Regions from separate parts of the Homo sapiens genome. Here region 2 is linked to region 1. Evidence: fine-mapped expression QTL. Tissue or cell type: spleen. Region 1 holds a variant in brackets; the other region holds the start of a gene. All regions are shown on one strand. Distances are between the middles of the regions.

Region 1 (8,111 bases):
AAGTCTACTGACTGTACTCAATTTATACCACAGTTAAAGGAGCATGCACACACAGACATGAGAAAGAACCAGCACAAGAACTCTGGCAAGTCAAATGCCCAGAGTGTCTTCTGTTCTCCAAACAAGCACACTAGTTCTCCAACAAGGGTTCTTAACCAGGCTGGGATGGTTGAAATGACAGAAATAGAATCCCAAATATAGATAGGAGTGAAGATCATTGAGATTCAGTAGAACTTTGAAACCAAATTCAAGAAAGCTAAGAATGAAAATAAAATAATATGGGAGCTAACAGATTAAACAGCCAGTATAAAAAAGAACCTATATGACCTGATAGAGCTAAAAAATACACCATAAGAATTTCATAATATTGAGAAGTGAAGCCAGCTGGACTTCCTTGGTAGAGTGGGGACTTGGAGAACTTTTCTGTCTAGCAAGAGGATTGTAAAACACACCAATCAGCACTCAGTAGCTAGGATTGTAAAATGCACCAATCAGTGCTCTGTAGCTAGCAAGGGGATTGTAAAATGCACCAATCAGTGCTCTGTAAAAACACACCAATCAGCGCTCTGTAGTTAGCAAGAGGATTGTAAAATGCACCAATCAGCGCTCTGTAAAATGCACCAATCAGCACTCTGTAAAATGCACCAATCAGCAGGATCCCAAAAGTAGCCAATCGCAGGGAGGATTGAAAAAAGGGCATTCTAATAGGGCAGAAACAGAACATGGGAGCAGACAAATAAGGGAATAAAAGCTGGCCACCCCAGCCAGAAGTAGCAACCCATTCAGGTCCCCTTCCACACTGTGGAAGCTTTGTTCTTTTGCTCTTCACAATAAACCTTGCTACTGCCCATTCTTTGGGTCCGTGCCATCTTGAAGGGCTGTAACACTCACCGCGAAGGTCCGCGGCTTCATTTTTGAAGTCAGCAAGACCACAAACCCACCAGAAGGAACCAACTCCAGACACAATATTATCACAAGTATTAACAGTAGAATAGACCAAGCTGAGGAAAGAATCTCAGAACTTGAAGACTGGCTCTCTAAAATAAGACAATCAGATAATTAAAAAAAAAAAAAGAAGGAAAATGAATGAACAAAACCTCCATGAAGTATGGGATTATGTAGAGGCTAAATCTATAGACCATTAGTGCTCCTAAAAGAGAGGGGGAGAAAGCAAGCAATTTGGAAAACACATTTCAGGATGTTATCCATGAAAACTTCCCCAGCCTCACTAGAGAATCCAACATCCAAATTCAGGAAATAAAGAGAACCCTTGCAAGATACTACACAAAAATTTCATACCCAAGACGTATAATTATTTAATCGTCAGGTTTTCCAAGATTGCAATGAAAGAAAAAATATTAAAGGCTGCTAGAGAGACAGGGCAGTTCTCCTAAGGGAATTCCTAAGGGAATTCCATCAGGCTAAAAAGTCCATAGAAGTCTAAAAGTCTATAGCAGATGTTTCAGCAGAAACCCTACTAGCCAGAGGGGATGAGGGGCCCACATTCAACAACAACAAAAAAATTTCCAACCAAGAATTTCATATCCATGCTTCAAAAGTGGAGGAGAAAAAGGATCCTTCTCAGAGAAGCAAATGCTGAGAGATTCATGACGACCAGACCTGCCTTACAAGAGCTCCTGAAAGAAGCACTAAATATAGAAAGGAAAGAACATTTCCAGCCACAACAAGAACACACTGAAGTACATACACAGACCAGTGACACTATAAAGCAACCACACAAATAAGTCTGTGTAACAACAACCTAACAATACAATGACAGTTTCAAATCCACACACATCAACAGTAACTTGAATGTAAATAGACGAAATTTCCCAATTAAAAGGCACAGAGTGACAAGATGGATAAAGAAGCAAGACCCAATGGTATGCTGTTATCAAGACCCATCTCACATGCAATGACACTCATAGATTCAAAATAAAGGGTTGAAGAAAAATCTACCAAGCAAATAGAGAACAGAAAAAAGCAGGGGTTGCAACCCTAATTCCAGACAAAACAGACTTTGATTTAACCAACAAAGATAAAAAGAGACAAAGAAGGTCATTATATAATGGTAAAGGGTTCAATTCAACAAGATCTAACTATCCTAAATATATGTACCCAACACAGGAGCACCCAGATTCATAAAGCAAGTTCTTAGAGATCTTCAAAGACACTTAGACTCCCACACAATAATAGTGGGAGTCTTCAAAATCCCACTGGCAGTATTAGACAGGGAGAAAATTAACAAATATATTCAGAACCTGAACTCAAGTCTTGATCAAATGAACCTAATAGACATTGACAGAACTCTCCATCCAAAAACAATGGATTATGCATTCTTCTCATTGCCATATGGCAATGTAAATTATTGCCATACTGCTATGTAAATTAGTCCAACCATTGTTGGAAGCAGTGTGGTCATCCCTCAAAAAAATAAAAAGAGAACTAGCATTAAACCCAGCAATCCTATTACTGGGTATATACCCAAATGAATATAAATTGCTCTACCATAAGGACACATGCACACATATGTTCATTGCAGCACTATTCACAATAGCAAAGACATGAAATCAAACTAAATGCCCACCAATGATAGACTGGATAAAGAAAATGTGGTAAATATACACCTTGAAATACTGTGAAGCCATATAAAATAATGAAATCATGTCCTTTGCAGGAACATAGATGGAGCTGGAGGCCATTATCCTTACCTAACCAACCCAGGAACAGAAAACCAAATACCATATGTTCTCACTTATAAGTGGGAGCTAACTAATGAGAACTAATGGCCACAGCGAGGGGAAAAACAGACACTAAGACCTACTTGAGGGAGGAGGGAGAGGTTCAGAAACAAACAAACAAACAAACATTCAGGCTCTCTGCTCAGTACCCGGGTGACAATATGGTCTGTGCACCAAACCCACATAATACAAATTTGTCTGTAATAAGAAATCTGCACATGTACCCCTGAACCTAAAATAAAAGTTAAATGAATAAATAAAGTATCTCTTTCTTCAACTACTTCCTTTCTGTAATTCTTTCCCTAACCTCAAGTTGCAAAGAGAGAAGTGCTGACTAGTTACTACAAATCATGAATGGAAGCCTAGACCCATCACACCCCACTGTCTCTACATACACTTAACTGGCTGAGACTATAAGGAGTACCCAACCACTTATTACTACCAGATGAGGACGAAGTCAGAGCTCTGCTCACAGTGTCCATGTTTCCTGCAGTGCCTGGTATGTGAGAAGGGGCATTTTTCTTTTTGTACTGTGTTTGGCTGGAATAGGATGGGTACTGCTCAAAGAGTACTCTCCTATTGGCCCACTCCTTTTCACGTCCTTTGGCTAGAGAAAGTAGGATTTTTCTGGAGCTTCTTGGCCTGTGCCTATTGGCATTTCCAAGTTGTGTTCTTCTCTAGTGATCAAGATGGGGTATATGAGAGACAAAAAACAAAACAAAACAAAAACCAGAAAAAGGGAACAGACCACTGTCATTTTTCAAGTTCCAAAATTCCTAGGCAGTACACCTTCTTTTCTCTCATGTAAGAGTCTTCCAGTGTTTTATGCATTTTGTCCAGGATTTTAACATTCAGATAGTGGAAGAAATACAGTGAAATGTGTCTACTTCATCGTGATTGAACGGCTGAACCAAGATAAAAGCAAATCTTAACAGAATACAGATTTTTTAAAGACACATTACATACAACGATAAAAAATATAGAAATTACACCAGATGAATTATCAGAAATATGCAAGCCAGAAAACAATGGAGTGACATCATTAAAATGTTGAGAAAGAAACATACCTGTCAATTTAAAAATCCTAAGCCCAGCAAAAATCTCAAAAATGAATGAGAAATGATGACCTTTTATTTCAGCAAAACAAAAATTGAGGGAATTTATTAACAGCGGCACAGCATGATGAGAAATGATGAAGAAAATCGCCGGGCACGTGGCTCACACCTGCACTTTGGGAGGCCGAGGCGGGTGGATCACAAGGTCAAGAGATTGAGACCATCCTGGCCAACATGGTGAAATCCCGTCTCTACTAAAAATACAAAAATTAGCCAGGTGTGGTGGTGGGTGCCTGTAGTCCCAGCTACTCGGGAGGCTGAGGCAGGAGAATTGCTTGAACCCGGGAGGCAGAGGTTGCAGTGAGCTGAGATTGTGCCCCTGCACTGCAGCCTGATGACAGAGTAAGAATCCATCTAAAAAAAAATGATGAAGAAAATCTTCAGGCAGAAGGAATATGTTAGCTAGCAGAAAACTGGGTTTACACAAAGAAGTGAACAACTCCATTAATGTATAAAATAAGGATAAATATAAAAGATATCTTTAATTTTATTTTAATTGCTCTAAAAGATTGTTATTCATCTATAAACAAATATAGTAGCAATGCGAGTTTATAGGATATATAAAATAAAATAAAAATTTCTGGTTTCAACTCCAATATGTAGAGAACTTAGAAGTTACCACTACTCCCCTTACAAGAACAAAATAAGTGAATAAATTGAAAACCACTGATTTTTATTGAATCCATCAGAGAACCTCTTTGTAGGGCATACTGCCACACCAACATCTGGAGAGACAGGTGAATGCAGAGAATCACAGATGAGATGAATTTACCTAGAACAGGAACTACTTGAGCTGCAAACTGATAAGAACACTTATATGGTAACTTTGATGAATTGCTGAAGGCAGAATGTAGATTAGCATGAGAGTGATGGATTTTGGGGGGT[G/A]ACAGAGTATTGGGGATCCTCCACATTTTCATAGGTTTTGTTTCCAGGAATCCCATCAGTTTCTCACAGTGATAAGCCAAGAAAGAGCTCTCACATTTCTAGAAGTGGGAGGGAAAATGTAACCATTTTGAGATATGCCCAGAGCATTCTCCATAACAAAGTCTTATTCACCAGGGGAAAAGACTTTATTAGAGCCTATTCAGCTTGGAGGAAATTACCCAACTCCAGTCCTCTCTAGCCCTCTTGTCTCATGTGAGGGAGGAAAATGGGTTATAGCCCAGAGACACAGGTTCATTAAAGACTGAAATTTAATCATAGGATTATAGAATGTGTTTCTTCCTTCCACACTTCACTACCACATCAATGGGATTCCACTATAACAGTGGATCACAGCTGAAGAAGCTTTAAATGGAAACCCAAAGACAACAATGGAAAAAGAACAACAACACAAAAAGGACTCTAAAGGAAATTGAAACCATGTACAGGAAACATTAAACATAGCCAACACCTAGCCAGATTAGCATAAACTCTCATAACAAAGGCCTTTTTACCTTAGTTCCTATTAATTGATACATCTTGTCTGGATTTTTTTTTAACTTGCAAGTAATGCTTAATGGCCAGAAACAAACATAATCTGAAGAAACAAAGTAAGCATAAGACCGGACTCAGATATGTCACAGAATTTAGAATTATCAGAGAATTTAATATCACTATGATTAATATATGAATGAATCTAATGGAAGAAAGACAAAATTTAAGAGTAAATAGATAATATAAGCAGAGACAGGTAATCTAAAAAAGAATCAAATGGAAATGCAATAAATAAATTTAAAAAACACTGCAACAGAAATACAGAATGCCTGTTATGAGCTCACCAGTAGACTGGATATGGCCAAGAAAAGAATCAGTGAACTTGAAGATATGCCAATACAACTTCCCAAGCAGAAAGGCAAAGAGAAAAAATAACAATAATTAAAAAAAAACCAGAACAACTCATCCAAGAAATGTGAGACAACTTCAAAAGGCATGATACATGCATAACTGGAATACCAGAAGGAAAAGAAAATAAGAACCAAGCAGAATAAATATTTGAAGTAATAATGACTGAGAATTTTCCAAAATTAGTGTCAGGCATCAAATCACAGATTCAGGAAGTTCAAAGAACACAAAACAGTATAAATACCAAAAATCTTTACCTAGGAATATCATGTTAAAACTACAGGAAACCAAAGACAAGGAGAAGATCTTGAAGAAAGCCAGAGAAGGAAAATACAACTTACCTAAAAAGAAACAATGATGAAAATTACATCAGACTTCCCATCAGAAACTATGCAAGCAAGAAGAAAGTGGAGTGAAATATTTAAAGTGTTGAAAGAAAAATCTTCACTAATATACCATTATATCTGGCAAAATTATCTTTCAAAAGTGAAAGAGAAATAAAAACATTCTCATACAAATAAAAACTGGGGAAATTAATCAACAGCAGACTTTCCCTGCAAGAAATGTTTTTAAAAAGTAGTTCAGAGAGAAGGAAAATGATATAGGAAAAAAACTTTAATCTACATGAAGAAAGAAAGAGCATTGAAGAAGAAATAAATGAATTGATCAAATAAATAGCTATTGTAAATAAATTAATCAAATAAATAACTGTTTAAACTGAAAATAGTAACAATTACTGTGTGACTATAGTATATGGATACATGAAATGAATGACAGCAATTTTTTAAGGGATGAATGGGAACAGAAAAAGAGGAAAATAAAAAAGAAACAAAGAACAAATGTAATGAACAGACAGTAGTTACAAACACAGTGGATATTAATACAACTATATAGCTCATCACTTTAAATGTGGTTTAAATAAACCAATTAAAAGTCAAAAATTGTTGGAGTGGACAAAACAAACAAACAAATAAGACCCAATCATACGTTCTCTAAAAGTTTCCCAATTTAAATACAAAGACAGGGTTGGACATGGTGACTCACATCAGTAATGCCAGCAGAAAATGTAATCCAAATTGTCCTATACCGATTAAAGTAATTAAATTTCTTTTTAAAAATCTTTGAACAAAGTAAACTTCACACAGCGATGACTTTAATTGCAAATTCTACTACACATTTAAGGAACAAATAAAACCAGTTCTACAGAAACTCAGAAAAACAAAAAAAGAGACACTTAACAAACTCATTTTATTAGTTGAGCATTACACTGATTAAAAAAATACGTTTGAAAAACTTAAAAAAACTATAAAACAATATCCCTCATGAATATAGATATAAATTCTTGTCCTAAAATATTACCTAACTGAATCTATCAATATATAAAAAGGCCAATATATTATAATGAATTAGGGTCTATATCAGGAATGCTGGTTCAAATTTTCAACTTAAAAAATTTCATTTTGTTTCCAATTGGAAAAAATCTTCAATTTTTAAAACAAAAATCAATTAATGTAATTAAACTTATCAACTGATTAAACAAGAAACAAAACTTGGTTATCTTCATAGCTACAAAAACATTTAACAAAATGCATTATCTATCAATAATAGAAACTTCCAACAAATTAAAAATTAAAAGAAACTTTCTTAAACTGATTAAAATCATCTATTACAAAACTCTACAGCTAACATCATACTTAATAAAGTGAAAGAATCAATGCTTTACATCTGCTAGTGGGAGAATAAATAAGGATATTCACTGTCACTATTAATCATTGTACTGAAGATTCTATCCAGTACAAGATGATAAAAAAAAGAAGCAAAAACCACACAGATTAAAAATGAAAAACGAAAACTGTCTCTATTATCAGACAATATGGAAAATCTACACATTCACTACTAGAACTAATATGTCAGTTTAGCAAGGTGGCAAGGTATGGATCAATACACAAAAATCTGTTCTATTTATGCATACCTTCAATGAACAGTTAAAAATTGAACTTCACAAAAAGAGTGTAATTTATAGTACCATCAATAACATGAAATACATAGGTATAAATCTAACAAAATAGGTGGTGGGTTTGTGTGCTAAAAACTACAAAACACTGATGAAAGAAATCAAAAGGGAACTAAATAAATAGATATATAGTGTTCGTGAATTAGAGGACTCAGTGTCATTAAGATGTAAATACACTCCTAATTTATCTATAGATTCAAGACAATGCCAATCAAAATCCCACCAAATTGTCTTTTTTTTTTGCATAGAAATTCACAAGCTGATCTAAAATTTATATGGAAAACAATGGATCTAGAATAGCCAAAACATTTTTGAATAAGAACTAAATTCAGAAGATTCACACTATCTGATTTCAAGACTTATAAAACTCTAGTGATCAACAGAATAGGGTGTTATTTTTAAAAAAAGGATTGGCGC
Region 2 (8,111 bases), 280 kb before region 1:
CCAGTGCTTTGGGAAGTTGATGCGGTAGGATCACTTATGGCTAGAAGTTTGAGATCAGCCTGGGCAACACAGCAAGACCCCCATCTCTACAAAAAAATTTTTTTGTTTTTTTTTTTTTGAGACAGAGTCTCGCTCTGTTGCCAGGCTGGAGTGCAATGGCTCACTGCAACCTCCGCCTCCCGGGTTCAAGTGATTCTCCTGCCTCAGCCTCCTGAGTAGCTGGGATTACAGGCATGTGCCACCGTGCCTGGCTAATTTTGTATTTTTAGTAGAGATGGGGTTTCACCATGTTGGTCAGGCTGGTCTTGAACTCCCGACCTCAGGTATCCACCCGCCTCAGCCTCCCAAAGTGCTGGGATTATAGTAATGAGCCACCGTGCCCGGCCATGTTTTTTTAATTAGCCAGGTGTAGTGGTGCATGCCTATAGTCCTCACTGCTTAGGAGGCTGAGGTGGGAGGATTGCTTGAGCCCAGGTGTTCTGGGTTACAATGAGCTATGATTGTGCTGCTGCACTCCAGCCTGGGTGACAGAGCAAGAACCTGCCTTGAAGAAAAAAGAAAAAAAGAAAGAAAATATTTTTTAAAAGATAGATTAAAAAAATAAATAAAGAAGTTTTTACACTTTTGACACACTGACTGACCAGCACACAAGAGTTACATAATAAATGATTTAAAGGATGGTGGTTTAAAAAAAAAAAAAAGGGAAAAAGGCTGCTCTTTCAGAAGTAGAAACAGACCACATAGCTTCTTGTGGGAATTGTCATAAAAGGTGCGAGGCAGCAAGCAGAACATTCACATGGGTACTCTGGGGGTTCCTGCCCACGCTTAGGTCTCTGATGCACTCAAGCCTCATGATTCATCCATGGCTGTGTACCTTGACACCAGGAACTGGCCTGGGAATATTTGTATACTGTTATTTTCCCCTTTATTGCTCAACTAGGGAGGGGTGGAAAAGGAGGGTGTGGAATCCCAGTTACAGTTCAGAAGAAGAAAGACAACTTTGATGGCATTTATCCCTCTGGGACATCCTTATACTAAAAATTGAAGTGGGCAACCTGGGGAGAGAAATAACTTGATTGCCAAAGTACCATCTCTAAATATTGAATAATCAAACAGTAGGCATCAGATTAAAGCAAAAATCAAACATAAAGCCTCTGTTCCTTCAACTTCCTCTGAAGAGCCTTTCCTTATGGGGAGGTGGGAACATGCTTTTTTTCTTTTTTTTTTGAGGGAGTCTTTCTCTGTTGTCCAGGCTGGAGTCCAGTGGCTCAATCTTGGCTCACTGCAACCTCTACCTCTGGGGTTCAAGCAATTCTCCTGACTCAGCCTCCCAAGTAGCTGGGATTACAGGGATGCACCACCACACCTGGCTAATTTTTGTATTTTTATTAGAGACGGGGTTTCACCATGTTGGCCAGGCTGGTCTTGAACCCCTGACCTCTAGTGATCTGCCCGCCTCAGCCTCCCAAAGTGCTGGGATTACAGACGTGAGCCACTGTGTCCGGCCAAACATGCTCCTTTTTAAAACAGACTCAAAGGGTCACCAAATTCTGACAGAAGGCACTCGAACATATGATAAAATACAGGGTACCCAGTGATATTTTAATTTGAGATAAACAATGAATGATATTTTAGTATAATTATGTCCCAAATTCCACGCTTAATGCTAAAAGTATGGTATAAGTATTTCATGCTTATACTAAAAAAAAAAAAAAAAATCCATGTGAAATTCAAAGTTAACTGGGTAGCCTACATTTTTCTTTGCTAAATCCAGCCACCCACCACCTACCCCAACATTCTCACGTCAGCCCATTTGGGGCTCCACATATCCAATAAAGTTACCATTTTATAAAGTCACTGCCCATTAAAGTGCATCACAGTCACGTAAAGAAAAGGTGCATCAAATTGTAAAGTAGGCCGAGGGTGGTGGCTCATGTGTATAATCCTACCACTTTGGGAGGCTGAGGCAGGAGCATCACTTGAGGCTGGGAGTTTGAGATTAGCCTGGGCAACAAAGTGAGACCCTGTCTCTGCAAGAAATAAAAATACTAGCTGGGCATGGTAGCATGCATCTGTAGTCCCAGCTACTCAGGAGGCTGAGGAGGGAGGACTGCTTGTGCCTAGGTGTTTGAGATTGCAGTGAGCTTTGATGTACCACTGTACTCTGGCTTGGGCGGCAGAGCAAGACCTTGTGTCAAAATAAAAAACAAAGAAAAACAAAAAACAAACAAACAAAAACCTGTAAATAAACTATCAGGCATTCTGTCAATAAGTTTTATTTACTTTTTCTTTTTTTTTTAGATTTGCAGCTATAACTTTAAAACCTTAAGATTAGTGAGAAGGGGGAATATTTGACTGTTGAGAAAACTTCCAACTTGCAGAAAAACTGGTGGCTTACACATTAGTGACAACATAATAAGCTTGTGAATTTTGGTGGTCTTGCCTTTGAAATGGAGAGCAGGACAGATCATATACAAAGTCATCCAACTCATGAATGTTCTGTAGAGCACAATGGGCATTACCTAACATGAAAATTAAGGTCAACATGTCCATTTCCTACCCATAAGCGTTCTTTCCTCAAATCTCACTCCCATCTCAGCCACCACACGCTTCCTCTTTGCACTGCTTTATCAGTAGATGAAACTACAACCATGGGACAGTGGAGCTGTGGCACAAACTCTGGTAGCACCTTTGACTTCTCCCTCATCCCTGGGGTTCCAGAGTTTGGGTCCCTGTTATCCTCTCTGACCTACTGCAATACCTTAACCAGTTACCCCATGTCTGCTCTCTATTCTAGTAGTTCTCGACCTTGACTGCTCATTAGAATTATCAGGAATGTTTTTAAAAATAAAAAATGCCACTGCTACTGTCAGCCACTGTTCTTACATTATGCACTTCCTTATTTATCTATTTACCTGGGAACCCTGAAGCCAGCTTGCCAAACAATACATTATTCCATATCACATTTTAATTATAACGAAAAATCTCTGGTAGGTAGACACCATAGTTTATAAATTACCAACTCAAATTTTGTTTTTTATTTATTTATTTATTTATTTATTCATTTTGTAGAGGTGGGATCTTGCTATGTTGCCCAGGCCTGTCACTAACTCCTGGGCTCAAGCAATCTTCTGGCTTAGGCCTCCAACAGTGCTGGGATTACAGGTGTGAGCTGTAGATTCTGATCCAGAACAGCTGAATCAGAATCTTTGGTGGTGCCACTCAGACACCAGCCCTCCAGGAGATTCTAATGTACAGAGAACCATTGCTCTCCTCCAATCCCCCCTTCCAGGCTTATCTCTATAAAACACAACTAGTTATATTAAGTTCTTGTTGAAAAGCAAAACCCACCAATATTTCCCTTTTGAAGCACTATTGGGCCTATGAAAGTGGGGCCCCATTTTTCAACTTATATTTAATGGCCTCAAAACCTATCCTTCCCACCACCCTACTATTCTCATCTCCTGACTTTATGCTCCCTTCAAATTGGCCCATTTGCTAGTCTTCCAACTTCCCACCTTAGCCCCTTTGCTCCTGCTGCACTATACATTTGGCATGGGCCCCTTCATGCTCATATGTGTTGCACCCACCCTTCAAGGTCAGGTCGAATGTCTCTTCCTCCCTCTAGAACTCCACCCTCAGGGGATGGAATCTTTCCTCTTTAAGCCTATGCGGTTCATTTGTGTCTGTCCTTAGAACATCCTAATTTATACATTTACTGTATTTTAATTCTCTCTTCCCCTGTATCAAACTCCATAAGGGTCGTACTCTACTATAGAAGCCTAAGAGAGAACATTACACATAGCAGGTGCTCAGTCTTTCTGGAACTCTTTTGCATGAGGCCTATAAAATTTTGGTTGAGGCAGGGCAGAACAGCTCACACCTGTAATCCCAGCACTGTGGGGAGGCCTAGGCTGGAGGATTGCTTGAGTGCAAGAGTTAGGGAACAGCCTGGGCAATACAGCAAGACCCCATCTCTACAAAAAATAAAATAAACAAAAAACAAACGTTGAGTTGGTAATTTATAAACGATGATGTCTACCTACCAGAGATTTTCATTAAAACTAAAATGCGAGATGGAATAGTGTCTGCGCTGTCTGGCATTCTGGCTTCAGGCTTCCCTGGTGAATAAATAGGAAGTAAGAACAGTAGCTGAATATTTCAAGTGTCTTTGATCTACAGCTGAAGAGTTTCTCAAACTATGCAGAAATGGGTGGAGAACAACTTTATTAAAGACGGGTCTGGTTTGGGCAACAAGGAGAAACAGCACCAATGACCTGAAATAAATCTTCATAGTTAAGGTTTCAATGCATGAGTAGTCATTTTGTTTTCAATTTAAACCACTAGTTTGGCCCTTGGGTAATTGCAAAGCATTCTCTTGTCAGCCTAAGCAGAAGAGAACTTTGTTAGCAGCAAGGGCTTATAAACTTTCAAGAAAGTGTCGCGATTCACTCCAAACTTTGCTAGTTTTTTCACTAGAAGCGGAGAGTCGGGGTGATGGGGGTTCAACTAGCTGGGGGAGGGACAGCATTCAAAAATTCTCCACCCCCGGCCGCAGGGCCAGGTCCCGCAGGAATCCCTCCCCCAGCCTGCGCCCTCCCCGCACCACGCGGCCACCCCGAGCCTGGGGACCGCCGAGGAGGGGCGCGCGGGAGTCCCACCTACCTGAGTGCCAGAAGCCTCTCGCCCAGGAGCGCCAGCGCGATCCCCAGCAAGCCCACAGCCACCAGCCGCCCCATGGCGCGGGAGCCGGGCGCGCTGCCTCGCTCCGGCCTGGCCAGCAGCTCCGTGGGCGGTGCCATCTTCCCGGCTCGATGGTGCCGGCCGCGCTCCGCCCCGTCCTCCGCCTAGGCCGAGTCCCTGCGTCGGGGCCGCGGAGGCTCCGCCCTGGGCCTGGCCCTGGTCTTTGTCCTCACAAACCTATTTCCCCAGATACCTTCGGGACGGCCCGGACACGCCTTACATTAGGCTCATGATGTGAAACTTTGAATTCCTTCACTTCCTTTTTCAAACAACCCACCCGAAACCCTCTAGCAGCCCGCATACCTTTCTCGTTTCCCTAGTCTTCAAACACATTTCTCACTCGCTATTCCAGTGAGAAACTTACATAGAAAGCAGCTTTTGGGGATGGGGGTCGGTGGCCAAGGGAGGGAAAGTAACGGGATGCGTCGTGTAAATATTTCACGTTGGAATCACTACTTTTTATAACAGGACGTAGTTGCGAATAAATAAACATCCTGTGCCTCGTAATACTTTTTTTTTTTTTTTTTAACAGGGTCTCGCTGTGTTGCCTAGGCTGGAGTACATTGGCACAATCATAGCTCACTGCAGTCTGGACCTCCCGGACTCAAGGGACCCTCCAGCCTCAGCCTCCTGAGTAGCTGGGACCGCAGGCACGTACCGTTACACCTAGCTAAGTGTGTGTAAGTTGTGTGTGTGTCTGTGTGTGTGTGTGTGGAGACCGAGTCTTGCTGTGTTGCCCAGGTTGGTCTCAAACTCCTGGACTCAAGCCATCCTCCTGCCTCAGCCTCCCAAAGTGCTAGAATTACAGGAATGAGCCACCATGCCCAGCCTCTATTAATACTTCCAGACTACAGACTTAAGGACTTAGACACGTCTTTTTCATCCAAACTCAAAGGGAAGAAGTGTAGTTTTTTTCTTTTCCGTTTTTACTCTAACAACCGTAACATGAAGGAATAATTTAAAATACAATTTTAAAAGTAAAATGAAATTTACCCATCAAGATTGATACCATTACAATAAATGAGTACATCTGAAATAAGCTTCTAATGGTTTTCGGTATTTAATTGCCACCCTACAATATGTAGGCAGAAATGGTCACACTTGACAATTTTCAACAAATATCAGTTTTATAAAGAACCAGTAAATAAAAGTGGATGCCAATTTCCCACCTGCCTCTCACCAAAAAAAAAAAAAAAAAAAAAAAGCACAAACACCTCTCTCCCTGTGTGTGTGTGTATCTCTGCTTCAGTCCTAAGGATATTGGATTATACTGGATGGTAGAAAGAGAAGTAAAAAGTTGTCCTTTGAAAGCCCATGAGGCATTACCTTTTTTGTGTCGTGGACCCTTCTGGCAGTGGTGAGCCTGTGGATAACTTCTTAGAATAATGTTTATAAATGCTTACAATAAAATGCATAAATTTTCTCTGTGCGGTTCATGAAAAAAAGAAAGAAGAAAAAAAAATTTTAAATAAATGAATAAAATGTATAGATTGCAAAGAAAATCAATTACATTGTAAGGAAAAAAAATAGCTGAGAGCAGTCTGAGCTTTGTGAGGTATGCAAAATTTATCAGGCCCAGAGCGACATGAGTATGGGACTTCAGTCACGCCCCAATACCCATGCCTGGGGACAGTTGTTTAAAGACATTTTGTTCCCGAGTAGCTGTCCCACCCATTATCTTCATATTCCTGGAATTTATGATACAAAGAACAAAGTATAACCAATCCACAGCTTATGTTATTTTAACGCAAGGAATTTAGGAACTGCCTCTTCCTTCCCCTTAAAAATCTATGTGTAACTGCTGCTAATCAGAGTGTATATTTAGGGAAACTTGAATCTATACTCCTGGGTTGCAGTACTCAAACTTGGCCCAAATAAACTCTCTACTTACATTAATTTTGCCTTAGCTTTAAAATTAAAGGTCAACAATTGAAATGTAATTGTTAAAATATCTAAAACATAATTTTTTGCTATAGTAATGTGGTAATGTAATGTGTGCAACATTATTTAACATATTAAATAACAAGATCTAGCAACATTCTTTTAAATAAAGAGGAGTGCAAATGTTCTTTCATGATACTGAAAACAACTATAATGAAATAATGAAAATAACTGTTATTTCCATTAGTAACAGTCACAAGTACTGCAAATGCTTCTGAGGTTTGTCTGCTAGTTTTGTAATTGAAGAAAATGCTAAATTCCATTTGAAATCAAGATTTTTTTTTTCTTATCCAAGGTCATTAATTCCTCTGAACTATCAATGGACCACTGGGTTAAGAACTCTGACATAGGCTAAGGCTATGACTGTTTAGAGAAGGGTGGAATCTCCTTTCTAGGACTATTTTTGGTGTCAATTATTGAGGAAGAGAAGAGCCTCAGATACAAAATCAGAATTTAGGCCTGGCAAGGTAGCTCTTGCCTATAATCTCAGCACTTTGAAAGGCCCAGGTGGGAGGATCACTTGAAGCGGGGAGTTCAAGACCATTGTGGGCAACATAGGGAGAACCCATCTCTACAAAAAAAAAATTAAAATTAACAAAAAAAAAAAATTAAAGAATCAGAATTTAGAAGAAAGACCTAAAGCAGAGGGCCTTGGACTATTGTCTGGGCTTCTCTCTTAATCTCTTAGGCCCCAAGGGAAGTACATACAACTATGCCTCATGGATTCTGGGTCAGGAGCCAGGCTACCGTGTCTTTCCACAAGTTCCGCAAAATGAGGAAACCACATAGATGGCAAATAAGAATATCCAAGTATATGCTATTCTCTGTCTATTTCCCTTTTGCTATTCCCAATTTTTTAAAAAGAAAAAAGTCATGTTCTTAATAGTCATGTTCTTCAACCTGGTTCCAGGTGACATTAAAGGGTTGGAGGTCTACATCTTTTAGGCTAGTCTCAGGATAGCAAAAACAACAACAACAACCAAAACCAGCTTTTGTGCTGACTTTCCTTTCTTCCCTGGCCCATGGTAGGCGTCACTAATTGATTTTGGCAAAGTGTCTCATCACACCCAGACTTGTCCTCACAATTTTTTAAAACAACAACGAAAGGGAAATAAGAATCCCTGAGCTAGGGAACAGATTTCAGTTCAGGATGAAACCTGTTTGCCATCTTGGTGCTGGGTGGTCAGGAGGAACAACACCTTGGGATTTAGCATGGAAGCATTTGTGATAATGAGCCAGGACTTTCAAGTCCACCAAAACCTACCTAAGCTCACCCTCAGAGAATCAAGAGAAATGGAAACCTTATTTTAACTTTATTAACATGACCAGTGAGTTCCCCCAATAATCTGTGTGAGGAATCTTCTACCCCCATATTCTTTCTCTTTCTGAATGTTGCGGTTGAAGCAACTTTTGCAGAAGTAGTATCC

What was found. PIP is the estimated chance that this variant, and not a neighbour inherited with it, causes the effect.
Region 2: PON2 starts here. The variant in region 1 is fine-mapped to the expression of PON2 in spleen (GTEx, PIP 0.97).

The regions. Positions count from the first base shown.
Region 1 is chr7:95,705,964-95,714,074 of GRCh38, forward strand. The region is part of intron 2 of LOC105375409 (a long non-coding RNA gene); the gene reads left to right. Among named protein-coding and RNA genes, the nearest start is that of DYNC1I1, 63 kb to the right of the region's middle. The variant G/A (reference allele first, on the strand shown) is at 4,742.
Region 2 is chr7:95,430,213-95,438,323 of GRCh38, forward strand. It overlaps PON2 (paraoxonase 2), which reads right to left and starts at 4,816. Exons shown (of 9, transcript NM_000305.3): 1 at 4,666-4,816. The coding sequence starts at 4,739. RefSeq lists a silencer at 4,499-4,928 and an enhancer at 4,603-5,173.